Regions from separate parts of the Homo sapiens genome. Here region 2 is linked to region 1. The links come from fine-mapping of genetic effects on gene expression. A gene starts in region 1. The other region holds a variant in brackets. All regions are shown on one strand. Distances are between the middles of the regions.

Region 1 (15,567 bases):
AGACCCAGTCTGGTTCTCGCCCTTGTGGGAATACAGTCTGGCGGAGGGACTTTGGATGGAGCTGGACTTGAGGTTGGACATAGTTCCGCTTATCTCCAGCGGAGCAATCCCTAGCAAGTCATGGATTTGAAGCCCACCTTTCCTCCTCTGTAAAAAATGAATAATGAGCAGGGTGCAGTGGCTCATACCTGAATTCCCAGCACTTTGAGAGACTGAGGCAGGAGGATCACTTGAGCCCAGGAGGTCACTTGAGCCCAAGAGTTAGAGGCTGCAGTGAGCTGTAATCATGCCACTGCACTTAAGCTAGGTGACACAGCATGACCCTGTCTCTGAAAAACAAAAAAAAAACAAAAAACCCCACAAAACTATATTAGCTAAATACTACCACAAGGAAGCAGTTACCAATATTAATATCAGAAAAACTGAATTAAAGCAGAAGAACATTAATAGGAAGAAAAGGCACATTTGGCACTGATGAAAGTTATAATCTCCAAAAAAGATGTAAAAATTTATGAATTTGCATGCTCCTAAAAAAGTGTTTTTAAATATATATAAAGCAGGAACTTACAGAGGTAAAGGGAAAAAATTGACACGTTCGTAATAATTGTGTGAGATTTAAAACATTTTTTTTTTTGAGATGGAGTCTCGCTCTGTTGCCCAGGCTGGAGTGCAGTGGCACAACCTTGGTTCACTGTAACCTCTGCCTCCCGGGTTTAAGCGATTCTCCTGCCTCAGCCTCCCGAGTAGCTGGGATTACAGGTGCCTGCCACCATGCCCAGCTAATTTTTGTATTTTTAGTAGAGACAGGTTTTCGCCACATTAGCCAGGATGGTCTCGAACTCCTGACCTCAAGTGATCTGCCTGTCTTGGCCTACCAAAGTGCTGGGATTCCAGGCGTGAGCCACTGTGCCCAGCCGATTTTTTAAAATTTTATTTAAAAGTTTTTTTTAGAGACAGGGCCTCACTCTGTTACCCAGGTTGGAGTGCAGTGGTGCTATCATAGCTCACAGAAGCCTTGAACTCCTGGGCTCAAGCAATCCTCCACATCCTAGTATGCCTTCCTGTAGAGGATAGAAAGCCAAAACTCTTTCACAGATTCCCTTACAATGAGTGTTTCAGATGTGAATTATTTTCCAACACTTACTGCTATTGTGCAAGATCTGAAAAGCAGATGAGAGGCCAAGACCATTGTCCTTTTCCGTGGGCTGTTACTGCTTCCAAGCACAACTGTGGAGCTATCGAGTTTGCCCGCATCAATGTCTGGCCCCTAGTGTTGTGTATGTGGGCAGTAGAAGCAGCAGTGGCAGTGCCTGTATTAGACCTTTGTATTGTTACCCTAGCAGTGTATTTATAAATACAGTTCTAATGTGTGTTCTAGGCCCAGCCTCGGGTCCACTCCTATAGCCTGCCAGTGACTTTTTTTTTTTTTTTTTCATTTTTTAGATAGGGTCTGGCTCTGTCACCCAGGCTGGAGTTCAGTGGTGCGATCTCGGCTCTCTACAACCTCTGCCTCCTGGGCTCAAGCCATCCTCCTACCTCAGCCTTCTAAGTAGCTGGGACTACAGGGATGCGCCACCACATCCGGCTAATTTTTGTACTTTTTGTAGAGATGGGGTTTTGCCATGTTGCCTGGGCTGGTTTTGAACTCCTCTAAGCTCAAGCAGTCCACCCGCCTCGGCCTCCCAAAGTGCTGGGATTACAGGCGTGAGCCACTGTGCCTGGCCTCCCAGTGACTTTTGAAACACCCAGTGCCCTGTATTAAACCTCATTGTGCTTAAAATATCTAGAGTAGTTTTTGTTTTCTGCATTGAACACTGATTTCTGTAGATTCAAGTTACTATAGATTACTATGGATTTGAAAAACATGAGTAAAAAGCTTGAGGTAAGAAAAGCTTAAACTGTTGGCCAGGTGCCGTGGCTCACACCTGTAATCCTAGCACTTTGGGAGGCCGAGGTGAGTGGATCATGAGGTCAGGAGTTCGAGACCAGCCTGGCCAACACAGTGAAACCCCCGTCTCTACTAAAAATACAACAATTAGCCGGGCACGGTGGCGGGTGCCTGTAATGCCAGCTACTCGGGAGGCTGAGGCAGGAGAATTGCTTGAACTGGGAGGTGGAGGTTGCAGTGAGCCGAGATTGCACCACTGTACTCCAGCCTGGGTGACAGAGCAAGACTCTATCTCAAAAAAAAGAAAAAAAGAAAAGAAAAAGAAAAAAAAAGGAAAAGCTTAAACTATTAAACTGAGAATTTCAATCATTTTTCAAGCATACAATGAATATTAACAATGACAGTATATCAGATCACAAAGGAAATCTTAAAAACTTAAAAAAAAAAGCAACATTATGTAGACAATTTTAACTGATCACAATGCAGTAAAAGTATATTTTCATTTTCTTTTCAATAGAGAGACGGTCTCGCTATGTTGCCTAGGCTGGTCTCAAACTCCTGAGCTCAAGGGATCCTCCAGCCTCAGCCACCAGAGTAGCTGGGATTATACACGTTCATCATCATGCCTGGCTGAAACATTTATTTATGTATGATTTATTTATTTTCAGTTAGAGATGGGGGTCTCACTATGTTGACCAGGCTGGTCTTGAACTCCTGGCCTCAAGTGATCCTCCTATCTTGGCTTCCCAAAGTGCTGGGATTACAAGCATGAGCCACCATGTCTGGCCTGAAACTACATTTATTTTTAATAATAACAGGTAGCCACCGGGTGTGATGGCTTATGCTTGTAATCCCAGTGCTTTGGGAGGCTGAGGCAGGAGGATTGCTTGAGCCCTGGAATTCAAGACCAGCCTGGGCAACATAGAGAGACTTCATCTTCACAAAAAATAGAAATGTTAGGCACTAATACTTTGTTTCCCTAGACACCCTGTCTCTAGGCTGGGAATACACGCATGCACCACCATGTCTGGCTAATTTTTGTATTTTTTATAGAGACAAGGTCTCACTGTGTTGTCTGGCTTGTCTCAAACTCCTGGGTGCAAGTGATCCTCCCACCTTGGCCTCCCAAAGTGTTGGGAGTGGGTCACTTTAGGCCACAAGTTTGAGACCAGCCTGGGCAACATAGTGAGACTCTATCTCTCCAAAATAATTTAAACTAATTTTAAAAATTAGCTTGAGGCCAATTAGTAGGCATTTAAGGCTGCAGTGAGCTATGATCACACCACTGCACTTCGGCCTGGGCAACAGAGCAAGACCCTGTTTCTTAAAAAAAAAATGAAAGAACAAGAGTAAACCAAAGGAAATAGAAGAAAGTAAATAAGAAAGGTAAAACCAGAAGATGGTGAAATAGAAAATATAATAACAACATCATAAAAAACAGAGATAAAAAAGCAAAAATCTGATTTACCAAAAAACCCTAGGATGACTGAGAGAGAGCAAGCACAAATAAATAGTATTAGGAATTAAAAGGGGACTGTAATCAATACAATAGAGATTTTTGAATCATGAGAATACTATTAATATCTTTGCAACAGGGTCTCACTCTGTCACTTAGGCTGGAGTGCAGTGGCACAATCTTGGCTCACTGCAGCCTCCATCTCCTGGGCTCAAACCATCCTCCCACCTTAGCCTCCCAATAACTGGGACTACAGGGAGTATGGGACATGCCACCACTCCTGGATAATTTTGTATTTTTTGTAGAGACAGGGCTTCACCATGTTGTCCAGACTGGCTCGAATTCCTGGGCTCAGGTGATCTGCCGCCCAGGCCTCTCGAAGTGTTGGGATTACAGGCGTGAGTCACCGCCTCCAGCATGGTGGCTCATGTCTGCAATCCCAGCACTTTGGGAAGCCGAGGTGGGAGGATTGCTTGAGTCCAGGAGTTTGAGACCAGCCTGAGCAACATAGCAAGATGCCGTTTCTACAAAAAACCAAAAATTTAGTCAGACATGGTGGTAGGCACCTGTAGTCCCAGCTACTCAGGAGGCTGAGGTGGGAGAATCATCTGAGCCCAGGTGATCATATCACTGCACTTCGGCCTGTACACAAAGCGAGACCTTATCTCAACAAAAAAAAAAGAAAGAAAAAAAAGAAAGAAAAAAGAAAACGCAATAAAAATATTAAAGAATAGAATAATTTAATTAAAATGTGCAATATTTTGATGAAGAAAAATCACAAAAATGAATTGAAGGCCTGGCAGAATGGAAATAAGGTACATTTATGGATGAGAAGACTCAGTATTATTCAATTTTATCCCTAATCTGTAAATTCGATGAAATTCTAATTTAAATCCCAGCACAATTTTTCAAGGATCTTGACAAAATGATTCTACGGTATACAGTTAGCTAAGACGATTATAAAAAATAGAAACCAAGTTGAGGGGGTGGAGCTTGCTCCCTAGATAGCAATATTTATCACAAAACCATAGAACTAAAACAATATTGATCAAGAATAGACAAATCGATCAATGGAAGAGAAAAGAAAGCCAATAAATAGGCCAGGTGTGGTGGTTCACGCACTTTGGGAGGCCGAGGCAGGTGGATCACCTGAGGTCAGGAGTTTGAGACCAGCCTGGCCAACATGGTGAAACCTCATCTCTACTAATAATACAAAAAATCAGCCGGGCATGGTGGTGGATACCTGTAATCCCAGCTACTTGGGAGGTTGAGGCAGGGGAATCGTTTGAACCCAGGAGGCGAAGGTTGCAGTGAACCAAGATCCTGCTACTGCACTCCAGCCTGGGCAATGAGAGAGAAACTCCATCTCAAAAAAAAAAAAAAAAAAAAAGGAAAGCCAAGAAATAAATTGCATTCTTTAATGGGAACCAGGTATATCGCAGAGGTGCTGTCATGAGTCAATGGAGCAAACAGCTAATGATGAGGCAAATAGCATTAGGCCAAAACCTGGGCAAAACCTTACTTTATTTTTTTTTTATGACAGAGACATTTTAGAATACCAGGAGAAAGGCTGGGCCCAGTGGCTCACACCTGTAATCTCAGCACCTTGAGAGGCCGATACGGGCAGATCACTTGAGGTCAGGATTTTGAGACCAGGCTGGCCAACATAGTGAAACCTCATCTCTACTTAAAACACAAAAATTAGCTGGGTGTGGTGGCGTGCGCCTGTAATCCCAGCTACTCCGGAGGCTGAGGCAGAAGAATCGCTTGAACCCGGGAGGTGGAGGTTGCAGTGAGTCGAGATCATGCCACTGCACTCCAGTCTGGGTGATAGAGTGAGACTGTCTCAAAAAAACAAAAAAATAAAAATAAAATAAATAAATAGAATACCAGGAGACAGAGAAACTGGCCAGAGACTGGCTGGCTTCTAAAACCAGTCCTTGCTAATCTTGAGCAAATTACTTAATCTGTCTTGGCCTATTTCCTCATCTGTCAAATAAGGATAATAACAGTTCTTACCTCACAGACTTGATGTAAGGATTAATATAGGTAAATTAATACAGGCAAATACAGGATTAATATAGGTAAAGCATTTAGACCAGTCCCTGGCTCAAAACAGCACTACGTAAGTGTTAGCCATTCTTTATCTCTATACCATGTGGAACTGACAACATCTCCACTCCCGTTTTCTCTGCCCAATGTGGGAGACTTCCATTATCCAAATGGACCAGAATGGCTTGGTTCACTGGTCTTAGGGAACCTGGTCAACTTTCTGCCATCATGACCAAGACATTCCTTAGAGGGAGGGCTTCTCATTTACAAAAACTATTTCCTTAGAGCAGTAATTTTGGTCATTGGTGACATCCAGTCTCTACTCTTACCTCATCTATGACTCTGACTGCCAGATCATGACAGTTTTCAATATGGATTACCCAATAGCTTGGTTTGTTTTTTGTAATAAACCTTGTTTTTTAGAATAGTTTTAGATCTACAGAAAAATCTGAAGATTAGTACAGGGAGTTCCTGTGTACTCCAGACTCGGTTTCCCTTGTTATTCATATTATGCTGTTTTTAAAATTCCACATTATATCATTGAGATACATTCATGTTGATATATAGATCTAATTTATTGAGTCTAACTGTGATTTAGTATTCCATTGGCCTGGAAGGTTCTCACAGTCTCACCTGGCACAGGTTTAGTGCCAGGGAATTCCATCTCCCTCGCAATCAGACTTATCAAATCTCTGGTTCTGGCCGGGTGCAGTGGCTCACGCCTGAAATCCCAGGCCAAGATGGGAGGATCGCTTGAGCTCAGGAGTTCGAGACCAGTCTGGGCCACATAGTGAGACCTCGTCTCCACCAAAAATAAAAAAAAAATTAGCTGGGCATGGCGGTGCATGCCTGTAGTACCAGCGACTCAGGAGGCTGAGAGGGGAATATCACTTGAGCCTGGGAGGTCAAAGCTGCAGTGAGCTATGATTACACTACCACAACTCAGCCTGAGCGACAGAGCCAGACCCTATCTCAAAAAAAAAAAAAAAAAAAAAAAAAGCCAAACACCACTGTTTCTGCAGTAAAAGTATTTACATAATCATAACATTATAAATGTCATTTGGCTTTCAGTGTTAAGAATCAATCTACAGGTAAACAACGGTAAACTGAATTATCTTTACCGAATAGAATGTAAATGCTATAAACCTCAGCGATACAAAAATAAAAGCTTAGTTCATGGATAACGGCAGAAGCAGGGAGGGGACATCAAGGGAAATTATCCATTTCACACAGAGAAGAGTCAAGAGATACAATATACAGAAGAAACAGACATTTAAGAATAGTATTCAAAGTGATAATAGAAACCAATAGTAAAATTTAAAATATAAATATAAAAAAGAGGGCCAGGCACGGTGGCTAACGCCTGTAATCCCAGCAATTTGGGAGGCTGAGGTGGGTGGAACACGAGGTCAGGAGTTTGAGACCAGCTTGGCCAGCATGGTGAAACCCTGTCTCCACGAAAAATACAAAAATTAGCAGGGCATGGTGGCACGTGCCTGTAGTCCCAGCTACTCGGGAGGGTGAGGTAGGAGAATCACTTGACCCTGGGAGGCAGAGGTTGTAGTGAGCTGAGACTGTGCCACTGCACTCCAGCGTGGGCGACAGAGCGAGACGCTGTTTCAAAAAAAAAAAAAAAATATATATATATATATATATATGAAAAGCGGAAGAGAAAGGGGGAAAGGGTGGTTAATAAAATCACCACAGCAGGAAGTCAACAGATACAACAGACACAGTTAAAATTAATAAATCAAGTAATAGAGGCATGAGTATATTATTTACAGTTATGAAATTTAAAAAATTAACATGATGACAAACATGGTAAAAAACAAAAAACAAAACACAGTTGTTTCCAGGAGTTGGGGTATTGGGAAATGAGAGATAGCTTTAAACTTTTTATTTCTAACCTTCTATTGGAATTGATTCTGCATTTCCATCTACATTAATTATATTTGAGATTTTCTTTTTAAATTAGGCAAGCACTATTCACAATAGCAAAGACATGGAATCAACCTAAATGCCCATCAATGGCAGATTGGCTAAAGAAAATGTGGTACATATACACAATGGAATACTATGCAGCCATAAAAAAGAATGAGATCACGTCCTTTGCAGGAACGTGGATGGAGCTGGAGGCCATTATCCTTAGCAAACTAATGCAGGAACGGAAAAACCAAATATTGCATGTTCTCACTTATAAGTGGGAGCTAAATGGTGAGAACACATGGACAGAAAGAGGTTAACAACAGACACTGGGGCCTGCTTGAGGGTGGAGGGTAGGAGGCAGTAGAAGATAAGAAAAAATAAATATTGGGTACTAGGCTTGATAACTGGGTGACGAAATAATCTGTACAACAACCCCCGTGACACAAGTTTACCTATATTAAAAACCTGCATATGGACCTCTGACCCTAAAATAAAAGTTTAAAAATAAAATAAAATAAAATTAGGCAAAAAATCTAGGTAATTCTGACATTGTCCTACTGGCTCAGGGACTATTGCGGTAGGATCAAGTTAAACTCTCAGGCAGGCAGCCAAGGCCCCTCGCTGCCCCATGCACCCACCTACCTCTGCTTGGGAGCCAGGATTGGCACCTCCTCCAGGAAGCCCTCAGGAGGAAGAGGGCGCCCTCTGCCGGGGCAGGAACGCCAGCACGCCTGGGGAGCAGCCTTTTGCTCATCATCAGGGACTCCGCCCCTATCCCTCAGCAAGGGCCTCCCTCCCCCGCATCACGTGATCTCAGCTCCTTTTCAGCTAGTGGGTGGAACCCCAGGAGGGAAAACTCAGGGAAGCCCAGGTGAGAGCGACGCGACCGATGGGGCCCGGATTTCTTGGATGCTGGGGGACTGTCCCAGTAAGGCTTGGGAACCTGGGTGGGGCGCCTTTCAGAACGGGACCGATGGGAGAGAGACGAGAAGGGTTATGGGCACGAACCCCGTTCAGTATCTGCTCCTTGCGCAGTGTGAGAACTGGGAGAGAGACTCCTGGCCCTTCCACTTCCTGTGCTTCCTTGGGTGAGTGTCTTAACATCTCAGAATCTCAGTGTCCTCACCTGTGGCTGCCAGTATGAAATGAAATAAGCACATAAGTCATAAATAAATGGTATCTTATTAGGTCCCATTTAAGCGAATGTGTGAACTCTCAGAGACAAGAAGACCCTGGAGGCCACTGTAGCTCGGCCCTGTTTGGAGGCAGGCCTCTCCACCCTCACCCAGGACACCAGCTCCTGCTGGGTGCTCCCCTCCCTGGAGTGCTCACCCCTAGGCCTCAGGAGTGGAAGGGTCTGGGAGAGCTGGCTGGAAGAGGGGCTCCTCCCAGTTCCCACTGAACGGGCTGACAGGTCGGACTCTCCAAGACAAAGTCTCCTCTTTCTGTCTCCACACAGGGCCCGTGTTGTGCTTTTGGCCCAGGTAGGTGGACAGACATGTCCCAGGCGGGGGACGTAGAAGGCCCCAGCACAGGAGACCCTGTGCTCAGTCCCCAACACAACTGTGAGCTTTTACAGAACATGGAAGGAGCCAGCTCCATGCCAGGCCTGTCACCAGATGGGCCGGGAGCAAGCTCTGGGCCCGGAGTCAGGGCTGGCAGCAGAAGGAAGATCCCCAGGAAGGAGGCCCTTCGAGGTGGCAGCTCCCGGGCTGCAGGTGCTGCTGAGGTCCGGCCAGGGGTCTTGGAGCTGCTAGCTGTGGTACAGAGCCGGGGCTCGATGCTGGCTCCTGGGCTCCACATGCAGCTGCCCTCGGTGCCTACTCAGGGGAGAGCTCTGACCTCCAAGAGGCTCCAGGTTTCTCTGTGTGACATCTTAGATGACAGTTGCCCCAGGAAACTTTGTAGCAGGTCTGCTGGCCTCCCAGAGAGAGCTCTGGCCTGCAGGGAGAGGCTTGCAGGAGTGGAGGAGGTGAGCTGCCTCAGGCCCAGGGAGGCCAGAGACGGTGGAATGAGTTCTCCAGGGTGTGACAGAAGAAGCCCCACACTCAGCAAAGAGGAGCCCCCTGGAAGGCCCCTGACATCCTCACCAGACCCAGTCCCTGTGAGGGTAAGAAAGAAATGGAGGAGGCAAGGGGCTCATTCAGAGTGTGAGGAAGGGGCTGGTGACTTCCTGTGGCTTGATCAGAGCCCTCGTGGGGACAACCTCCTGTCTGTGGGAGACCCTCCCCAAGTTGCTGACCTGGAGTCCTTGGGAGGCCCTTGCAGACCTCCCTCTCCAAAAGACACTGGGTCTGGGCCTGGAGAGCCAGGTGGAAGTGGGGCAGGATGTGCCTCAGGGACTGAGAAATTTGGATATTTGCCCGCTACAGGGGATGGGCCCCAGCCAGGCAGCCCCTGTGGCCCTGTCGGGTTCCCAGTGCCCAGTGGAGGGGAGTCCCTCAGTTCAGCTGCACAGGCTCCTCCACAGAGCGCAGCACTGTGCCTGGGGGCGTCAGCACAGGCCTCTGCAGAGCAGCAAGAAGCTGTGTGTGTCGTGCGGACTGGCAGCGATGAAGGCCAGGCTCCAGCACAGGACCAGGAGGAGCTGGAGGCCAAGGCTCAGCCAGCTTCCAGGGGAAGGCTGGAGCAAGGACTCGCTGCCCCCGCTGACACCTGTGCCAGCTCCCGGGAGCCCTTGGGCGGCCTCAGCTCCTCCCTGGATACTGAAGCCAGCAGGGCCTGCTCAGGCCCATTCATGGAGCAGAGAAGATCCAAGGGCACTAAGAACCTGAAGAAAGGTCCAGTGCCCTGTGCCCAAGACCGGGGCACAGACAGAAGCTCAGACAACTCCCACCAGGACAGGCCAGAGGAACCCAGCCCAGGAGGCTGCCCCAGACTGGTGAGCTGAGTCTGAGAGTTTGGGATAGGAAGGGCCTGGCCATGTTTCTCAATACCATACTTGGCAGTGGAATTTAATAAAGCTAAGCTAGATGGGCGCTTCATGAACATTCTCACATCCCTATTAACTAAACTGGGTAAAATGAGGCCCACAAACTGGGAAAGAGAAAATAAACTACATTCGCTGAATCCTTGTGAGGGGTCATTATCTTTTGGAGTCAGTGAGTCCTGGGTTCGAATTTTGCCTCTGCCCACTTCCTAGCTGAATGACTGTGGGATGTTTTCTTAACCTCTCTAGGTTTCCTCATTGTAAAAAAAGGATACTAATTGCAGCTTCATGGGGTTGTTTCAAGGATTAAATGAGATTATGGTATAAAATAATGTGCCTAGGCCTGGTGCAGTGGCTCACGCCTGTAATCCCAGCACTTTGGGAGGCAGAGGCAGGCGGATCACGAGGTCAAGAGATCAAGACCATCCTGGCCAACATGGTGAAACCCTGTCTCTACTAAAAATACAAAAATTAGCTGGGCATGGTGGCACATGCCTGTTCCAGCTACTCTGGAGGCTGAGGCAGGAGAATCACTTGAACCTGGGAAGCAGAGGTTGCAGTGAGCTGAGATCGCACCACTGTACTCCAGCCTGGTGACAGAGCAAGACTGTCTAAAACAAACAAACAAACAAAAAAAAGGTGCCTAGCACAGCACAAGGCACAAGGTAAATTGCTTAATTCGTGTTAAATTTGCTTTTCCTTTAGTGTTCACAGTTACCCTGTAAGATAGGCGTTAGCCCCATATAACCAGATGGGGAAACTGAGGCTCGGAGGGTTAATAATATTCTCCAGGCTCACATAGCTGGGGAGTCAGTGACCAGCCATGTTCCCTATATCACCACTTCCCTTTCCTTTGTTCTTTTACTTATAATCATCATCATTTTATTAATAATCATAGCTAACATTTATACACCAAAGGCAGAAGAAGACTCTACTTGTTTTTGGTGTATATTTCTCACATAGTTGGATTTTCATCACATTTATTGAATATGCATGATGTGCTAGATGTTTTTGATTTAATCTTCACACGACGTCCACGGAGGTGAGGTTACAGACCCAGCTGGTGAATGGGAGCAAGGCTACAAGCCTAGGCGGTCTGTCTTGAGAGCTCACTGCACTGCCTTCTCTGTGTATTTTCTGTGTTATCGGCACAGTCGTAACAGCATCTGGCTTGCTTAACATGTGCTGGATATTGGGCTAAGCACTTTATCTGCAATCTTTGTAACAAGCCTATGAGGTAGACTCTATTGACATATACCCATTTCACTGATCTGAACACTGAGGCTCTGAGAGGTGACATGAGTACTCAAGGCCAAACAGCCAATTAGTAAAATAGAACCAGTGAGCTGTTTTCCACTATGCATCAAGCCTTTTTACCTATAAATAGGCTCCTATTATGCCTTATTGTTCCAGGACTTTGCTTGGTTTTGTAAGTTCCGTAGTATTTGAAGGTCTTTCCCAGTGGGTTCACCTTGTTCTGCCGAATTTGATCTTTTCCTGAGCCCTGCATCATAGCTGTCTATGGATGTATTTGTCGCAGGCACAGGCGCTGTCGGGATGAGGGCTGGGACTTCCTCTTCTCATTTCCAACCACTGTAGTGTAGTGAGGAGCATGAGCCCTGGAGGCCAATAGGCTAACATTCAATCTTGACTTTGCCACTATCTGAACAACCGAGGTGAGTGGCTTCACCTTTTCAAGTGTAATTCTCTCATCTGCAAAATGTGGGTATGAAGAGTGCTTACCTCCTAGGGAGGTGGTGAGGATGAAATGAGATGACACATGTTTGGCATTTAACACAGTGCTTGGTGCAAGAAAAATACTCAAATAGGTTACCTGTTAGTGACATAAGCAATTTCGTCCTGCTGTAAGTAGTGCAGGGGTGACCATCCTTGTGCGTCTGGCTCCTCCCTTCTTCACATGATTTATTTGGACCAGATGCCCAGAATTGGGATTCCTGGGTCTGCAGCCTTTAAGGGGGCTGGTTTGAGTGCGGTGGTGGAGCCAGCTTCCTGCCTGGCTTGACTGGAAGCAGCCCATGACTGCTGGCTCCTCCAGGCTCCATCCTTGACTGCGGCACAGCCCATCATCCCACAGCTTTCCAAACAACTCGTTGCCATGACAACCAGTACCAGCTGCGGGAGAAGAATTGAGTCTGGGCTGTGACAGGGACAGGCGGGTGGTTGCAGACAGGGCTGAGTGGGGCCTGGGCAATGGGGGGCACAGTGCCCGGCTGGTCTGGAGCCCCGTTTAGGGCCTTAGCACCTTCCCCTGGAGACAGCCTGGCTTGTGGCAGGGGCAGACAGGTTCAAGGTCAAGCTCTGCCTCTTAGTACAGGGTGACTTTAGACATGTCTTCAGACATTTAGATGAGTTTAACTTTTTTTTCTTCCTTTCTTAAGCTCAGTGGCAAGAAGACTTTTTTTTTTTTAATTTACTTTTTTTTTAAGATGGGAGTCTCGCCCTGTCACCCAGGCTGGAGTGCAGTAGCACAATCTTGACTCACCACAACCTTTGCCTCCTGGTTTCAAGGGATTCTCCTGAGTAGCTGGGACTACAGGTGTGGGCCACCATGCCCGGCTAATTTTTGTGTTTTTAGTAGAGGCAGGATTTCACTATGTTGGCCAAGCTGGTCTCAAACTCCTGACCTCAGGTGATCCGCTGCGTCGGCCTTCCAAAGTGCTGGGATTACAGGCATGAGCCACTGCGCCTGGCTGCAGAAAGACTTTAGACATTTAGAAATGTCTCTTCTCTGAATCTGAGTTGCCTCCTCTATGAAGTGGGGAGAATGAAGTGGGCCCCAGAACTGCCAGGAGTCTGATATCAGAGGCTGGCCGTGTTGTATTCTTCTGGCATGAACCAGAGACTCTTGGAGGAGAGATGGGAGGGGGACTGGATGCCATTCTCTTGTCCGTCCTGGGCCCCACAGTGGCCAGTGAGGTTTGGAGCTGCTCTATGGGTGGGATAGCAGTGGGTGTGTGTGTGTGGGGCAACTCTGCCAGTGACCCTGGGCTGCTCACATTCCACCAGTCATAACCAGGGAGGCACACAGCTCCTCTGGCCTGACCCAGAATCCCTGGTTCAAGGTATGCTGTCTGTAGCTGCAAAGTGTCAAGAGGTGAGTGAAGGAGGAGAGTGTCTTCCTAACAGAAGAGCAGCCTAAGAGGAGCTCGTTTCATTAGTGTGCCTACTATAGACTGAGAGCTTCAAGTATGTCATCTCATTTAATCCTTACATTAACCATTAAAGGTCAATGTCGGCCAGGCGTGGTGGCTCACACCTGTAATCCCAGCACTTTGGGAGGCCAAGGCGGGTGGATTGCTTGAGCTCAGGAGACCAGCCTGGGCAATGTGGCAAAACCCTGTCTGTAGAAAAAATACAAAGATTAGCTGGGCATGGTGGCTTGTGCCTGTAGTTCCAGCTACCCAGGAGGCTGAGGTGAGAGGATCACCTGATTCCAGGAGGTCAAGGCTATAGTAAGCTGTGCTGGTGCCCCTGCCTTCCAGCCTGGGCAACAGAGTGAGACCCTGTCTCAAAAAAAAAAAAAAAAATTCAACACTAATATCCCCATTTTACTAAGTAAGAAAACTGGGCTTCCGAGAAGTTAAGTGACTCACTCAGGCCACATCGCGAGTAAGTGGCCGAGCCAGGGTTTGACTCCAGTCCTGCATAACTTGACTGTTCACGGGGCTTTATTATAATTTGTTGAACAAGGAGGGGGCTCGTCCAGGGATCTTACAGTCTAGTGGGAGGAGAAAACCACTAACCAGAGAATTGAAATACAGACTGAAGCCCAGTGGACTGTGGATGTCCAGAGGGGAGGGGAGGGCAGAGGAGGGGGCTGTCTAAACTGGGTCTAGGCAAGGGAAGTAGGTGTTCAGCAGGTGAGAAAGTAGGAGAGGCTTGCTAGGAAGAGGGCAGTGCTCTGCAGAGCTGCATTGCAAGAGGCAGCTTGGAGTGTTGCAGGAGTAGAGGGTGGGGGTTACAGGTGGAACGGGAGCCAGGTGGGAGAGGCCAGCTTGAATGGAAATGGAGAGCCTGCAGGGTGGTCGAGTGTCAGGATGGCCTTTCTCCAGGGCAGGGACCAAGGAACTTTATCAACACAGGCATTTACAGAGAGAGCTTCTTCTGTTCCAGGCACTGTTCTAAGAGTCTCGAATAGTGATAATGATCGTTGCCCCAACACCATGAGGTAGATACTGGTATTATCTTCATGCTACTGATGAGAAAACTGAGGCACAGAGAGATTAAGTAACTTTCCCAAGATCACACAGTTCCTAAGTGTTGGCACCAAGTATCCCCATTGCATGAATATGCCCCAATTTATTTATTTGTTGACTCCATGTGGACATTTGGGTTTTTTGGTGTTTTTTTTTTTGGCTACTACATATAGTGCTGCTGTGATAGTTTTGTATGGTTTTTGGTACATATGGGGTATCTCCAGGGAATATTTTCTGGGGTGGAATTGCCAGGTTATAGAGTGGACACATCTTCAACTTAAATGGTGCCAGATGTTTTCTAAAGTGGTTGAAATAGTATACACCCCCATCAGCAGTGTATGAATATTCTGGTGACTTCACATCTTCACCAGCCCTTGATGGTAGCAGACTTAGGTTTTTTGCTGAAATGGAGATATGCTGTGGTGTCTCAATGTTGTTTTAATTTCCACTGCCCTCTTACTAAGGAGCATCTTTTCATGCATTTTGGTTATTCTTATTAAGTCTTTTCTTTAAAAAGTTTTTTGGCTGGAGTACAGTGGCATGATCTCAGCTCACTGCAACCTCCCCCTCCCAGGTTCAAGCGATTCTCCTGCCTCAGCCTCCCAAGTAACTGGGATTACAGGTACCCGCCACCATGCCCGGGTAATTTGTGTATTTTTAGTAGAGACGGAGTTTCACCATATTGGTCAGGCTGGTCTTGAACTCCTGACCTCAGGTGATCCTCGGCCTCCCAAAATGCTGGGATTGCAGGCATGAGCCACCAGGCCTGGCCTGTTTTGTGCTTTGCATATGTTTTGCATTTCTACACTTTCTCCCATGTAAAAACACAATTGAGTTTTGTTTATTGATTTTGCATCCAGAAATCTTGCTTTTATTAATCTATATAATTTATCTATTTGGATTTTGTTTGTTTTCTATGTAGACAAATGACAGTTTTTGTTATTTCCTTTCCAGTTCTTTACATCTCTCTTCCCTTCCCTTTCCTTACTGTACTAGCTAAGACTGTTAGTATAGTGTTGCATAGAAATGGTGATAGCAAGGAACCCGTGACTTATTCTGGATTTTAAAGGAAATGTGGTCATCGTTTCACCTTAAGTAT
Region 2 (15,567 bases), 26 kb before region 1:
AATTAGAAAACCATCTTTTTTACAACTCCTAATAAAATGATGGATTCAGGCAATAATCCCCTATGGATGAAATTATTAATGTGAAAGGCTGATGGAGAATTTCATAATGGAGGGATCAGATTGTCACACCTGAGCCCATGGGCCCACCCTAGCACTGCTCTTGTATCTCCTGAAGTGAAGTCACGTGCAGTACACAACCCTTACAGTTGTGTCACGTGCAGTACAAACTAAGAACGGGCTGCCTTAGTTTGGATTTCCCAAAAAAGCAGACTGTATCTAGGAAAAGGATCGGGGTGCAAGTGATTTATTTGGAAGATGATCCCAGAAAGCATCCGTCTTTAAGAGAATAGGGAAGTGAGGCAGGGAAAGGCAGAAAGCCAATAAAAAGTGAATTAATGAGTGGGTCTTTACTCCGGGAACTGGAGCTCCATTCCTCTGGGGACCCTCTGAAAGGCTATACAGAACATGTCGGAAACCTTCCCTAGAGAGGCGAGGAAGCTGGGCTATTTAGCCACCAATCTCCACCCAACGCTAGTCAAAGGCTGCTCGGGGTTGTTAACTCCCTGGCTCTTCTCAGGAGCAGAAAATGCCCTCAGGTTGCAAGACTCAGAAGGTCTGCAGGTGGCCTCCAGCACTGGCCCATGGGACATGGTGGGACACCAACAGTGCCTGCTCTGGTGCCTTGCCAGAAGAGTTGAACCTGAGGCCGGACTTCTATCTACAGGAAATATAGGGGATGGAGAAGCAAGTAAATGATACCGCAAAGAGGCAAGTAGACACACCCAGGCCGTGGGGCTCCACAGGACCAATGATTCCTTCAACGAGGGTGTTCTCTGAGCTGGTTCCCACTGTAGGCAACTGGGCATATCCTGCTGGGGCCCCTCAGAGAAACCATGAGGAATACCCTCAGAATTGTTCCACAGAAGGTAGGAAAGCTGACGCATTTATCCATGATTCCAGTCCCTCATTGCTGAGGGCTGCCGCAGGGACATCAGCTTCCTGGACTTCCAAGCTGTGTCTGCTGGAGGGTTGAGTGGCCTTCTGCAGCTAAGGAGAAAGCCCGGAGGCAGAAAAGCTGAGGGAAGCTGCAGGGCGCATTTGAAATGGGGTTCAAGCAGGGTGCATGCAACTGTCCCCCCTGGATGCCCTGAGTCAACTGGGCCAAGCAGGTGTGAGGAGCGCCCCACCAGGGTCTGTACAGTGTCTCAGCAGATGAGTTCCTGCTGCAGGTGCACTTCTGGCCTTGCTGGCTGCCTCCAGCAGATGTAAGAGCTCTGGCCCTTACCACATACTGGAATTTCTCTGTGTGGGCTGTAACGAATGTGTGCCCCCCCCCCCAAGACGTGTGGGTGTGCGTGTGTGCACACATGTGTGTGCGCGCAGGTGATATGAAAGCGCTTTGTAGCCCTGCCTTGCTCTTAGAAGTACCCGATATTTCTCAGAGTGGTTTTCCTGGACCCAACCCATTTCCTCCTCGCAGACAGGGGCTCTGTGACACTTGAGCTTGGTCATGCCACTTCCCTGCTTAAGGTCATCCAAGCAGCACCGATGGCTCCTGAGTTCCCAGACCCTGAGATGCTGGAGTGGGGCTGGAGGATGGGCCATTGCTGGGCTGCCTAGATCAGGCACCTGGGCCCGTGGATCTTACAGGGGTCTCGAGAGGTTGATGGGGTGTTGAGGTCCTGAAGGGAGTACCATGGAGGTGGCCTCCTCCACGGGCCCCTGCCCTTGTCCTGGTCTCTGTCTCTCCCTATTTCTCACCTCTGCTTCTCTTGGTCTCACTTTTCCCATCTCTCTGTCTGCCTCAGTGTCCCCCTCTCTCCCTCCCCCCGACCTCTGTACCAGTTTCCCTACCCCTGGCCCCACTTCTGTCTCGGTCCTGGCCCCACCCTCCACCTGCCTCTAACTCCATTGCTTTTTGCACACCTCCTCCTCCTTCACAATAGTTTTCTTTTTCTTTTCTTTTTTGATGGAGTCTCGCTCTGTCACCCAGGCCGGAGTGCAGTGGTGGAATCTTGGCTCACTGCAACCTCCGCCTCCCAGGTTTAAGCAATTCTCCTGTCTCAGCCTCCCAAGTAGCTGGGATTACAGGCGCACACCACCATGCCCGGCTAAGTTTTGTATTTTTGGTAGAGACGGGGTTTTGCCAGGTTGGCCAGGCTGGTCTTGAACTCGTGACCTCAAGTGATCTGCCTGCCTCGGCCTCCCAAAGTGCTGGGATTACAGGCGTGAGCCACTGTGCCCGGCCCCTCATAATAGTTTTCTGCCTTCCTATCGAGAGTCAGTTTTTCAAGACAAAACAAAACAAAACAAAACCCACCACAACTTTAAAAACTCTTAGAAACATATTTTAATCACAAACGTGCAACACAGAAACATTAAGTTGGATAGAGGAAAAAATTCATAATCCCTTCACCCTAACTCGGCAGCTGTGGTCAATTTTGATGATTCCCTTTCAACCTTTTAAAATGACTTTTTCAATATAGCATCCTATACTTTGATTTTACATTCTGCTTTTTTAATCTAAATAATAAATCCCTTCAGTGGCTTCCAGTTTCTAAGCAAAACCAAAGCGCCTTTATGATGGCCTGAAAGGCCCTGAGTGATGTGCCTACTGGTTCCACCTCCCCTCTGGGGATCTCCCTGGCGTGCCCTCCTCCCAGTCCCCCTCCCTCCTCCCTGCCACTCTGCTCCAGCTACAGTGGCGTCACTTTCCCAAACATGCTAGGCATGGGCTTCCACCTCCCCCAAGGGCCTTACACTGGCTATTCCCTTTTCCTGGAATGTCTTCTCCCAAAAGTATGCATGGGTCACTTCTCACCTCTTTTATGGGTCACTCAAGGATCGTGTTCTCAGTCCAGCCTATCATGATCACCACCTAAATGGCAACATCCCCAACTTTACTCCCAATCCAGTTTTTCATAACAATGATGTTGCAAAACCATTCTACACACACATGTCAGACAGGCCCCTTTGCTCATGACTTTCTCAGCCATCCCCTGGTTGGACATTTTGGTTGAAGTGGAATTGTTGGGTTTAAAACTGTACACATTTAAAATTTCAATAGAATTACAAAATTGCCCTTTACTAAGCCTTCACCCATGGATAATTCCACCAATGGCAAAGGAAGGTGCTTTTTTCCCTTATCTGCCTTTTAAATTTTTGCCAGTTTGCTAAGCAAAATATATCTTATTGTTGTTTTAACTTGCATTTTTCTAATTAGAACAGTCACTGAACATCTTTTCATATACTTATTAGACATCTGTATTTCTTCTGTGAATTCTCTTTTCCATATCTTTTGCCAATTTAATTATTAGGTTGTTGGCCTCCTTTTTGTTGATTTATAGGAGCTCTTTATATATTGTGGATCACTTTAACCAGGGTAGATTATACCATTATCTAGTTCTACCCAAGGACAGCTTGCAGGCAGTCTTCACTCCATATTACTGCCTCCTCTGTGGGTATCAAAGATCCCACCCTTGGTTTGGGAGGCTGGTGAATGTCCTGAGCCATGTGAAAAGGGAAGGCATTACTAGGGATAAGTGTGGATGGGGGTCCTCAGCAAAGTATCAGGACATGAGTAGGTATCACGCCTGCTGAGCACTCCAGACAGCTGTCAATGAAGGCCCTCGTCAGACAGTGCAGAGCTGAATGGCTGATATGGTTTGGATTTGTGTCCCCCCTAAATCTCATGTTGAATTGTAACCCCCAATATTGGAGGAGGGGTCTGGTGGAAGGTGATTGGATCATGGGGTGGACATCCCCCTTGCTGTTCTCGTGATAGTGAGTTCTCATGAGATCTGGTTGTTTAAAAGTGTGTAGCACCTCCCCTTCACTCTCTTCCTCCTTTTCTGACCATGTAAGATGTGCTTGCTTTCCCTTCACCTTCTGCCATGATTTTAAGTTTCCTGAGGCCTCCCCAGCCATGCTTCCTGTACAGCCTTCAGAGCCATGAGTCTATTAAGCCTCTTTTCTTTATAAATTACCCAGTCTCGGGTAGTTCTTTATAGCAATGAAAGAATGGATTAATACAATGACTAATGTGGCTCTTCAGCCAAGGTGGCCTGTGGTATCCAGCTGAATGCTCACAGAAGGTCTGCTGGTGATGGCCCAGTCCCCAGGAAGCTCCCCAGTAGTGGTGACGGAGTGGACTTAGCTGTCTCTGGGCACTGACTCCACTCCTCTCCTTGGGTCCCACAGGTCCAGTTCCCCATCCCGGATCCCCCTGACCTCTTCGAAGGTCACTCTCACTCCTACTGCCTTTCTCTTTCCCAGCTCAGTGACCCCATTTACTTCCCTAGGGGAGACACGACCTGGGTCTTCTCATTCCCTCTCAATCCATCGTTAAGGCATAAATTTTACCTTCAGCTTCCTCCAAGGCCTTCCCTTTTGATTTTCAAGAGCATTTTCTTCTCTCAGCAAAAGCAGCCTCTTGCAAATCAAAAGACTTTGCCTTTCAAAAGTGTGATTTCTGATGTGGGCTTCAGTAGACTATCCAGAAAGTTAAAAAAACAATGACATCCAAACACTGACTGTTTCTCTCTCTTTATATTCCTGCTATAAAAGCACAAATTCTCCTAGGTAATTTTAAATCTCTGATTGATGTGAGGAAGTGGGAAAAATAAAAGCAAAATTGTTATTATTTCAAGATATGTTTTTGTTCCATTTCTGCATGTCTATGGTGGGTTTGTTTTCCCCGCCTGTTATTCATCTTATAACTTTGCTCATCGAGTCTTCTGTCATTCAGAAGTTAAATGTTTTTATGTAGTCAAATCTGTCCACCTTTCTTACTTTTCTTCTAATGATTTTATGGGTTTTTTTTTTTTTACATTGAGTTCTTTAAATTCAAGGGACTTTGTGTGTCTGGTGTGAGGTAGAGTTCAAATTTTCTATTTTTAAAATTGGAGAGCCATTTGTCTTAATGCCATTTATTAAATAGTCTATCTTTTCCTCATGGATTTGAAATGCTACATTTATGATTGATAGATATAATTTATCTTGTTTTATAAGGTATCTTTATTTCTGGCTTGACAGTTTTCTTGTTTTTATTCATTAAAATTTTTTTCTTGTGGGGAAGGGAGAATGGGGAGTTGGTGTTTATGGGTACACAGTTTCAGTTGGGAAGATGAGATGGAAAGTTCTGGAGATGGATGGTGGTGATGTGGTTATACATCAGTGTGAAGGTACTGAATGCCATTGAACTGTACACTTAAAAATGGTTTAAATGATAAATATTATGTTACATATATTTTACCACAATAAAAACTACTGAAAATTTTTTCTTGGATATTCTGTTGTTGTGTATTCTCTTTGTATTTTTTTCTTTCCGGATTAACCTGAGAATCAGCTTGTCAAATTCCATTTAAAATGTCTTTATTTTTAATTTTTTTAGAGACAGGATATTGCTCTGTCTCTCCCAGGCTGGAATACGTGGCGTGATCAGGGCTCACAGCAGCCTTGAACTCCTGGGCTCAAGGGAGCCTCTTGCCTCAGCATCCTGAGAAGCTGAGACTACAGGCTCCTGCCACCATGCCCAGCGTTTTTTTTTTTTTTTTTTTTTTTTGAGACGGAGTTTCGCTTCACTCTTGTTGCCCAAGCTGGAGTGCAATGGTGCAATCTCGGCTCACTGCAACCTCTGTCTCCCGGGTTCAGGCGATTCTGCCTCAGCCTCCCGAGTAGCTGGGATTACAGGCACGCGCCACCACACCCAGCTAATTTTTTGTATTTTTAGTAGAAATGGGGTTTCACCACGTTATCCAGGCTGGTCTTGAACTTCTGACCTCAGGTGATCCGCCTGCCTCAGCCTCCCAAAGTGCTGGGATTACAGGCGTGAGCCACCATGCCTGGCCTATGCCCAGCTAATTACATTTTTGTTTTTTTTTTTTTTTAGAGACAAGGTCTTGCTATGCTGCCCAAGCTGGTCTCAAATTCCTGGCCTCAAGCGGTCCTCCCATCTTGGCCTCCAGAAGCATTGGGATTACAGGTGTGAGCCACCATGCCTGGCCAAAAAATGTCTTTGCTATTTTGATTGGAATCACATTAAATTTGTAGATGACTCCGAAGAGAAATGACATCTTTATAGTACTGAATTTTTCCACCCAGGAGCATGGCAAGTCTCTCCGTTGATTCAGATCGCCTTTTATGACCTTCAGTAAAGTTTCATAATTTTATTCATTTCAGCTTATTCCTAGATTTGTGATGGCTTGTGTTGCCACTGGGAATGGAATTCTGAGTATGGCCCAGGGACTGTTGCTCAGTTCTATCCCCAGCCCAGCCTCTGGGATGCATGACTGGCTCCAAAAGACGCCTGGGACAGGAAGTACCAGCTGCAAGAGTCATTCACTGTTGCAAGCTTTGGCAATAGGAAGCAGGTGGATCCAAGTTAGAGGTTTGGCAGCCAGAGGGAGGAGAGAGGCTGGGATGAGCTGAAGGAGCTGGCAAGGTCAAGAGGAGGGACCTTCAGGATGAGGGGAACCAGAGCTTGTAATCAAATGGGTCAGAAAGAGGGAGAATCTGAAATGCTGGAGATCAGGGCTGATGCTCAGAATGAATACTGATGTAGCTCAAATGCCTCTATCACGCTGTAGAACAGATTGTGGCTTTGGAGCTAGGAGATGAGAGTTTGAACCCTGACCCTGTCACTAACTGTTTAAGTCACTTAGTTTCTAGGAAACCCAGTCTCCTCACCAGCAAAATAAGGGTGAATTCTAATTATATGTTTAATTGTTTAATTATGTGTCTGTCTTGCACTGGACTGGAGCTCCACAAGGGCAGGGACCATGTGGGTTTAATTCATTAATGTGCAGGGCTGCAGCCAGCGCATGCAGTGCTTTTGAGGGAATTAGAAAAAGGAATCCTTTGGGGCAGATGCTGCTCTCTGGGCCCACAGCTTGGCAAACGGTCCCCGGGCTGGATCTCAGCCCTACTTGCCCCTGGGCTGTGTGCCCTTGTGCCAGGAACAGCCTGCCCTGGTGTTCAGTGCTTAGCACAGGCTGGCACCGGGGAAGTGCTCACACAATGTATTGAGTAAATAGATGATTAGATGTGGTGGTTGAGAGAGAGAGAGAGAGAGAGAGAGAGAGAGAGAGAGAGGAGCCAGGTATTTCTGGGAGCCCTTGAGGGCTTCTCACTTATGCTCAGAAAGAAGTCCTCTGCTTCCAGGTGCTGATTAACATGGAATTTTCCAAGTGCTTCATTTCATGTATTTCTGCAAGGGCCAGAGATGGTGTCCACTAGTCCCAAGGCTGCGACAGGAATGGACTAGTCTGATGACCTGATACGATAGACCCCCATTTGCACAAGGCCTGGGGAGCCTCCATGAAGCATTCTGCCTAGGGAAGGTGGGACCCTGACTTGGTAACAAAGCCTTGAGCAACCCAAGGAAATGCTACCCAAGTGCCAACCCAAGGAAGAGCAGAGAAGAACATTCTAGGCAGGGGGATAAAGATCCAAAAGCCCTGCTGCTGCACAGAGGTGGCTCGGCCCTTTGGAGAGCTGAGCGTTGGCCAGTGTGGCTGGGCCTCCAGGCATCGCTTCATAGGACCTTCTTTCATTTGGTGGCCTTTGGGATTTCCTGCAACTGTCCTCTTCTTTGTGAACTTTATGAAGTTCGCATAACTGAGACATACCTACCGCACCTCTGTATCTGCCAACGCATACTCCAGCTCTTTGCACGGGGCCAGCCCAGAGGTTGATAGAGTCATCCCACGAAACAGATTAAGAATCCCAGCTCCGGCCGGGCGCGGTGGCTCACGCCTGTAATCCCAGCACTTTGGGAGGCCGAGGCGGGCGGATCACGAGGTCAGGAGATCGAGACCACGGTGAAACCCCGTCTCTACTAAAAATACAAAAAATTAGCCGGGCGCAGTGGCGGGCGCCTGTAGTCCCAGCTACTCGGGAGGCTGAGGCAGGAGAATGGCGTGAACCCGGAAGGCGGAGCTTGCAGCGAGCGGAGATCGCGCCACAGCACTCCCGCCTGGGCGACAGAACGAGACTCCGTCTCAAAAAAAAAAAAAAAAAAAAAAAAAGAATCCCAGCTCCACTGTGTATTTCCTGTGGACTTTGCCAATTCCTCTGAGCCTCCTCTATCTGTAGAAAGGAAATAGGAATATCCACCTTTCCAATTTGTTGGGAAGTTTCTGCCCTCAGTAATAAAGGCAGATAGTGTAAGAACAAAAGAAAGACAATTTAAAACTCCAGGAAAAACATAAAGATGAAGAAAGAGGGAAATATACAAGCACCTTCTTTGACTCAGCAATGAAAAATACGTAGATGGTCACAGTAATCCTTAAGGTCTTTCTTTTTCTGTGCTGGTGGGAGGCTTCAATACAACGCTGAACAAAAAGTAGCAATAGTAGGCAAGTTTGCCTTGTTCCTGACTTTGCAGGAAATGATTCTAGTGTGCACCGTTAGGTATGACTGTTATAAGCAATTGTGGGAATGGCTGAATTCTCACAAAATCTCCGAACCTTTTCTCATTGCGAAGGTTTCAAGATATCTCCTTGTCTCCTTGAGTTTTCCTGCTTCACTCATTCTATGGCTCCACATTGCCTGTGGGATAAAGTTTGAGCCTTTTTTAAATTTTATTTTATTTTATTATTATTATACTTTAAGTTTTAGGGTACATGTGCACAATGTGCAGGTTAGTTGCATATGTATACATGTGCGGTGCTGGTGCTTTTTTTTTTTTTTAGATTGAGTCTCACTCTGTCGCCCAGGCAGGAGTGAGTTCAGTGGCGAAATCTCAGCTCACTACAACCTCCACCTCCCAGGTTCAAGCAATTTTTCTGACTCAGCCTCCCGAGTAGCTGGATTACAGGCGTGCGCCATTAAGCCCAGCTAATTTTTGTACTTTTGGTAGAGACAGGATTTCACCATGTTGGCCAGACTGGTCTCAAACTCCTGGTCTCAAGTGATCTGTCTGCCTCGGCCTTCCAAATTGCTGGGGTTACAGGCGTGAGCTACTGCGTCCAGCCAAGTTTGAGCCTCTTGAAAGACCAGTGTCCAGGCTCTCTCCCTCTTTCCCAACCCTGAGCCTTCCGGGTTTACCCATTTCTCCCATTCCAAACACCTGGACATTTCAGGTCCTATCCATGATGACAGCTTGGCCTCTGCCTTAGAATATCTGCTCCGTGCCTCCATGCCCACTGCCTTTGCTCACGCCCTTTCCTTTTTCTTTCTTTTTTATTTTGCTTTTTTTTTTTGAGACGGAGGCTGCTCTGTTGCCCAGGCTGGAGTGCAGTGGTGCGATCTCGGTTCACCGCAACCTCCGCCTCTCCGGTTCAAGCAATTCCCTTGCCTCAGCCTCCTGAGTAGCTGGAATTACAGGCG[C/T]GTGCCACCACCCCCAGCTATTTTTTTGTATTTTAGTAGAGACAGGGTTTCATCATGTTGGCCAGGATGGTCTCGATCTCCTGACCTCGTGAACCACCCGCCTTGGCCTCCCAAAGTGCTAGGATTACAGGCGTGAGCCACCGCGCCCGACTGCTCATGCCCTTTTCTTTGCCTGGGATCCCCTTCCTCTCAGTTACTCTGACTCACCTTCAAAGGCCAACTCATCTCTGCAAAGACACTTTCCCCTCACCCTTCTTAGCATTTGGTATAAGACAGTTCCGGACACAGGGCCCAACACCTTCTCTAGTCTTTAAGAATCTGTTTAAGCCAGGCATGGTGGCTCATGCCTGTAATCCCAACACTTTGGGAGGCTGAGGCAGGAAGATCACTTGAGCGGGGAGTTGAAGACCAGCATGGGCAAACTAGGGAGACCCCATCTCTACAAAAAATTAAAAAAAAAAAAATTAGCCCGGCATGGTGGCACACACCTGTGGTCCCAGCTACTCGGGTTGGGGGAATGTGGTGGGAGGATCGCTTGAGCCCAGAAGGTCCAGGCTGCTGTGAGCCGTGATCACGTCATTGCATTCCAGCCTGGGCAACAGAACAAGACCCTGTTTCAAAAGAGAGAGAGAGAGAAAAAAAAAAATCTGTTGGATAAATGTGTGAATGAACCCCTAAGTAAAACTCTGGGTCACCATAAGGAAAAAAATCCTATTCTTCCAACAAATCCAGACTGTGCAGCTGCCTCAGCCTCCAAACTTCCCACACATGTTCAAAAATTTTGTCTTTTGCCTTTCTCCTTCAACAACAGTTTGGCTGAAAATAAAATTCTTGAGTCACACTTTCTCTCCTTGATGACTTTGTAGGTATCTGTCTATTGTATGCTAATGCTGGATGTTGCTGTAAAGAAGCCAGAGGCCAGCCTGGGATTTTTAAGTAACTTGTTCCTTTATGTTTAGATTCTCAAAGGAATCTTTCTTAACTTTAAAATCTAATACTTTTTAAATAGCATATATATGTGTGTGTGTGTGTGTGCATGTGTGTGTGACAGAGTCTTGCTCTGTTGCCCAGGCTAGAGTGCAGTGGTGCAATCTCAGCTCACTGCAACCTTTGCTTCCTGGATTCAAGCAATTCTCGTGCCTCAGCCTCCGGAGGAGCTGGGATTACAGGCATGTGCCACCACGCCCAGCTAATTTTTTGTATTTTTAGTGGAGATGGGGTTCCTCCATGTTGGCCAGGATGGTCTTGAACTTCTGACCTCAGGTGATCCACCCACTTCGGCCTCCCAAAGTGCTGGGATTATAGGAATGAGCCACTGTGCCTGGCCAATAGAATATATTTTGATGTGGATCATTATATTATAGAATATTGTTTTGATACCATTATTTGAGTTTCCTTCTTCAGTGACTTTGACATGTGTATATGGTTTTTTGGGGTCATTGTATTTTTAGTAGAAATGGGGTTTCACCATGTTGGCCAGGCTGGTCTTGAACTCCTGACCTCAAGCGGTCTGCCCGCCTCAGCCTCCCAAAGTGCTGGGAGTGAGCCAGCACAGGCGTGAGCCTCCACACATGGTCCACAGTGCGTCTTTCATTTCATTTTCTTGAAAGCTCCCCATCTTTCCTGCCTCAGGGCTTTTTTTTTTTTTTTGAGACGGAGTTTCGCTCTTGTTGCCCAAGCTGGAGTGCAATGGCGCAATCTCCGCCTCCCGGGTTCAAGCGATTCTCCTGCCTCAGCCTCCCGAGTAGCTGGGATTACAGGCATGTGCCACCACTCCTGGCTAATTTTGTATTTTTAGTAGAGACGAGGTTTCTCCATGTTGGTCAGGCTGGTCTTAAACTCCCGACCTCAGGTGATCCGCCCGCCTCTGCCTCCCAAAGTACTGGGATTACAAGTGTGAGCCACTGTGCTCGGCCTATTTTATTGTTTTTAGAGACAGGGTCTCACATTTTCTCTCTTATCATTTAAACTTTAAAATTTTTTTCTCATTTAATTTTTCTTTCTTCATTTCTATCTTACGTGTTGCATCAGTGCGTTCTCTTTTATGTTACTTTTGGTTTGACTTCAAGGTTATGATGAGCTATGATTGTGCCACTGAACTTCAGCCTGGACAACAGAGTGAGCCTCTTTCTTCTGTTCTTCGCCTGGCTGACTCCTACTCACCCTCCAGATCTCAGCTGGAAAAGTCCACTCCCCAGGGAGACCTCCCTGACTCCCCTAAACTCAGCAACCTGGGATTCTGTACGTTTTTTCCTGGCGCACAGGGTCAGCACACATTTTCATCCAAGGATGGACAGTAGGGGCACTCTGTCAGCCCACAAGGCCTTGTTAGGATGATAGCACAATTTCTATTTGGCTTTCTGAAATACTGACAATAGTACTGGGGTCCCCATGACACGGGTAACTAGAGTTCCTGGGCACCTTCAAATGAAAGGAGAGTCTTGGTGAGAGGGGTGGAGGAAATGCCAGATGCCTCCTGTGGGCTTTAAATCCAATGAAGAGGGACAGAAAATTCAGCAGGGCTGTGTCCTGGGATTGTTTGGGCAAAACCATGAGTGTCGACCAGGAGCAGGGTGGGGTTCTGGTCCATGGAGCTCTCTGGAGGAACAGAGACTAAGCTGCCTTCCTGAGACAGCTTTGGTTTTTCTTTTAATTGTGTTTTAATTGCGCAAGTGACATTTAAACAGCACTAAAGGCAATGTTTAAAGAGAAATAAAACTATTGGATCACATCCATCTTACACATCTGATGAGTTGGAAAGAGCACCGAACATGGAGTCCAACACACCAGGGTTGGCACGCCTCTCTGCTAATTACTGCCTGCACCACCTCAGGCAGGTTTTCTTGCCCTTCTCTTTGCCTTAGCTGCCTTACCTGTAAAGGGGAATGACTCTTAGCTCACAGGGAGCTGGGGAGAACTGGAGGATTCAGTGAGATCGTATGTGTATAAGCCCTGGGCATGGAGTCAGGGCTATGGGGGCACTCAGTAAGGTTTCTCTCTTTTATCAAGGCAACTGTGTTCATTTTCTTATATTCTCTGCCAAGCTTCGATCAAGTCCAGATGAACATTTCGCACACGGTGATGATGCTTTAAGTTTAGTTCTGCAATCTGCTTGCAAACTTTCTATGTCATAAACACTCGTTTCAACATTTTCATAATTATTTTATGGTGGAACACCATGCCATTGAGCCAATATATCATTATTTATGTAACCATTCTTCTGCCATTGGACATTTCTCAGTTATGGATGGTTCTATATTTAATTCTGCATTCTATGATACTGTTGCTATCATTTGTAGCTCATTTGTGGAAGACTGAGTATTCTTCCATATTTTACTTACTATTTCTATTTAGTTACTTAAATTGCCTGCTCATGACCTTTGTACCCATCTGTCTTAGCAACTCAGATATTTTTTATTGATGTGTATAAAATCTTTACACCACGTAGCTATTAGCCATTTTCCATTTTCCCCACTCCCAGGTGACATTTTAGTTTTAGTTATTTTTCTATTATACACACCCTAAACGTTTTATCTTTCCATCTTTGCATTTGTGATTTCTTTGAGTTTATACAACAAATATTATGTGAACATCTGATCTGGATGGCAGGTGCATGAAGAGGTATGGGAGTAAAGGACACTCCAGTTCCTGACTCCAGAAGGCCTCAGTTAAGTTGGGAATACAAACTGGAAAACAATTACAATATTGCCCTGCTAAGTTCTAGAAGAGTAAAGAATTGCAACAGCAGCAGAGGTTGTTTGCACGCTCCCTCTCTCTCTGTACCGGGCCCCATTCTAAGAACTTGCATATACTATCTCATTTAAAACCACAACAATCCTGTGATTTAGCTACTATTTTTAGCCCCATTTTACAGACGAGGAGAATGATCCTCAGAATGGCCACACGACTTACCTAAGCACCAACAGCCAATAAGAGCTGAAGCCAGTATTCGAAATCAGGCAGTTGGACTTCAGAGCTTGCCTTCTTAACTACCATACAAAACTAGCTGTTAGGGCAAGGATGTGGTGGTGATGCCAACAGAGGTGATAGGCATGGAGGTGTACATCAAGGAAACCCTCCAGGAGGAGGTGAGTCAAAGCTGAGAATAGAAAGACAGAGACAACTTCACCATCAGGCAAGGGGGTGTGGAGGAACGGACATTCCATGAATAAGGAAGAGCTCTTCCAAAGGTTTGGAGACGTAGCCCCTTGAGAGATGGTAAGCTGGCCAGAAGCCTCAAAGTTGAGGTGGTTCTATTATTGTTTACGTTTCCTTTATCTGTTTCTTCATCACAGGCTCCATGTTAGGTGCTGGAGATACAGTGATGAACAAGATATTCAAGGTACCTGCCTACCTGGAGTTTACAGTCTAATTGAGGGACACAGGAAGGAAGCTGTACTGACCATTTATCTTTCACTGCTGCTCAACAATTTAAAAAATTCCTGTCTGTGAGACTCTGTCTCAAAAAATGAATAAATAAAATTAAAAGAAAGAATACATGTAAAATGCTTAGCACACAATAAACACACAAGTATTGGTTCCCTTTCCTTTCCTCTTGTTTTCTGGAGGATTTTTACTTATTGTGGAAAAGAAAGCAATCCTTTCAGCATTTCCTTTTGTGTGTGTGTGTGTGTGTGTGTGTGTGTGTGTGTGTGTGTGTGTGTTTTCTTTTCGTTTTTAGAGAGGTCTTGCTCTGTTGCCCAGACTGGAGTGCAGTGGCGTGATCATAGCTCACTGCAGCCTTGAATTCCTGGGTTCAAACGATCCTCCCCAGTAGCTGGGAATACAGGTTTTTAAACGTTTCTGATGCAGCAGGACAGCTTGCCTGAACTTACAGTTGATTGGCTGTCTATTGGTGAAGAACTACTTCTAATTAAATTCTCCAGATTTTTTCTTCTTTAACATAACTTGTTTTTAGCTTAAAATTTCCAACTTCTTTTGCATTCGAACTACTTACTAGGGACCCAAGAAAGCAATCAAGTGGAAGACGTTGGAGTGGGATTCCTGATATCTTGAGTTCCTCCTCAGAGCCAAGTGAGCCTCCCTTGCAGCTAGGGTGCAGGCATGTGACCTTGGTTCCTCCAATCATCCTTGCCCACCTGAGACGCCAACTGAGTGATGAGCTATGCATGGGAATAGCTGTGTGCAGGGCATCCTTTTTCTGCCAGCCTGGTGGCAGTTAAAGCAGTGTGGCCTGGAGTCAGTGACAGTGGTGGCAGGTCCTCCATGAGTCTGATTCTGCAATATGCTTCTTGGAGAGGCTCTTGAAAGCTGCATCCAGATCCTGTTTCTCTAACATCCCTAAATAAATTTTCCTTCTACGGAAACTAGCCAGAGTGGACTCTGTTGTCTACATGCAAGAATACTAATAAACACGCAAATAAACAAATACATATGGAGCTGAACCTTGAACAACACACGTTTGAATGGTGTGGTCCACTCTCATGCAGATTTTCTTCTGCCTCTGCCACCCCTGAGACAGCAGGACCAAGCCCTCCTCTTCCTCCTCTTCAGCCTACTCAGCATGAAGACGACAAGGTTGTGAAGACCTTTATGATGATCCATGATCTGTTTCCACGTAAGGAGTAGTAAATGTATTTTCTTGTCCTTATGATTTTCTTAATAACATTTTCTTTTCTCTAGCTTACTTTGTGGTATGAATACAGTATATAATATATATAAAACATACAAGATATGTGTTAATCAACTGTTCATGTTATTGGTAAGACTTCCAGTCCATAGTAGGCTGTTAGTAGTTAAGTTTTGGGGGAGTCAAAAGTTATTCACATACGTGGATTTTTGACTATGCAGGGGTCAGTGCCCCCATGTTATTCAAGGGGCACACACTGAGGAACTAACAGTTTGAGAGGTTAAGAGTGTGGCCTAGAGTCACCCAAAGCTATAGCCGGGACTGAAACCCAAGAGAATGAGAATCGAGAGCCTGGACTCTTATAGGATGCTGTCAGATCAACGCCCCCACCTGGTGACAGCAGTCCTATATGGGTTACTCGTATCCTCAGGTGATCATCCTGCTCAGCGTGGGCAAAACATGAATTTCTTCTCGCTTGTTAGGTGCAGAGGTTGCAGGTGGCAGGGAAGAGAGCCTTTGCATGTAGTGCCTTGGCCCAGGGCTCTTGAGCTCTTGCAGAAATCTCCCTTGAGGACTGCAATGTGATGGAATTGTGTATGTATTTATTTAATTCATTTAGGGAGAGTTTTGCTCTGTTGCCCAGGCTG

What was found. PIP is the estimated chance that this variant, and not a neighbour inherited with it, causes the effect. A credible set is the group of variants that fine-mapping cannot tell apart.
Region 2: its variant is the best candidate, but not a certain one, in a credible set for the expression of SPOCD1 in atrial appendage (GTEx, PIP 0.87).

The regions. Positions count from the first base shown.
Region 1 is chr1:31,808,587-31,824,153 of GRCh38, reverse strand. It overlaps SPOCD1 (SPOC domain containing 1), which reads left to right and starts at 8,132. Exons shown (of 16, transcript NM_144569.7): 1 at 8,132-8,193; 2 at 8,782-10,203. The coding sequence starts at 8,821.
Region 2 is chr1:31,834,471-31,850,037 of GRCh38, reverse strand. No RefSeq gene overlaps it. Among named protein-coding and RNA genes, the nearest start is that of SPOCD1, 26 kb to the right of the region's middle. RefSeq lists an enhancer at 1,203-1,252 and silencers at 11,523-11,706, 15,236-15,305. The variant C/T (reference allele first, on the strand shown) is at 9,331.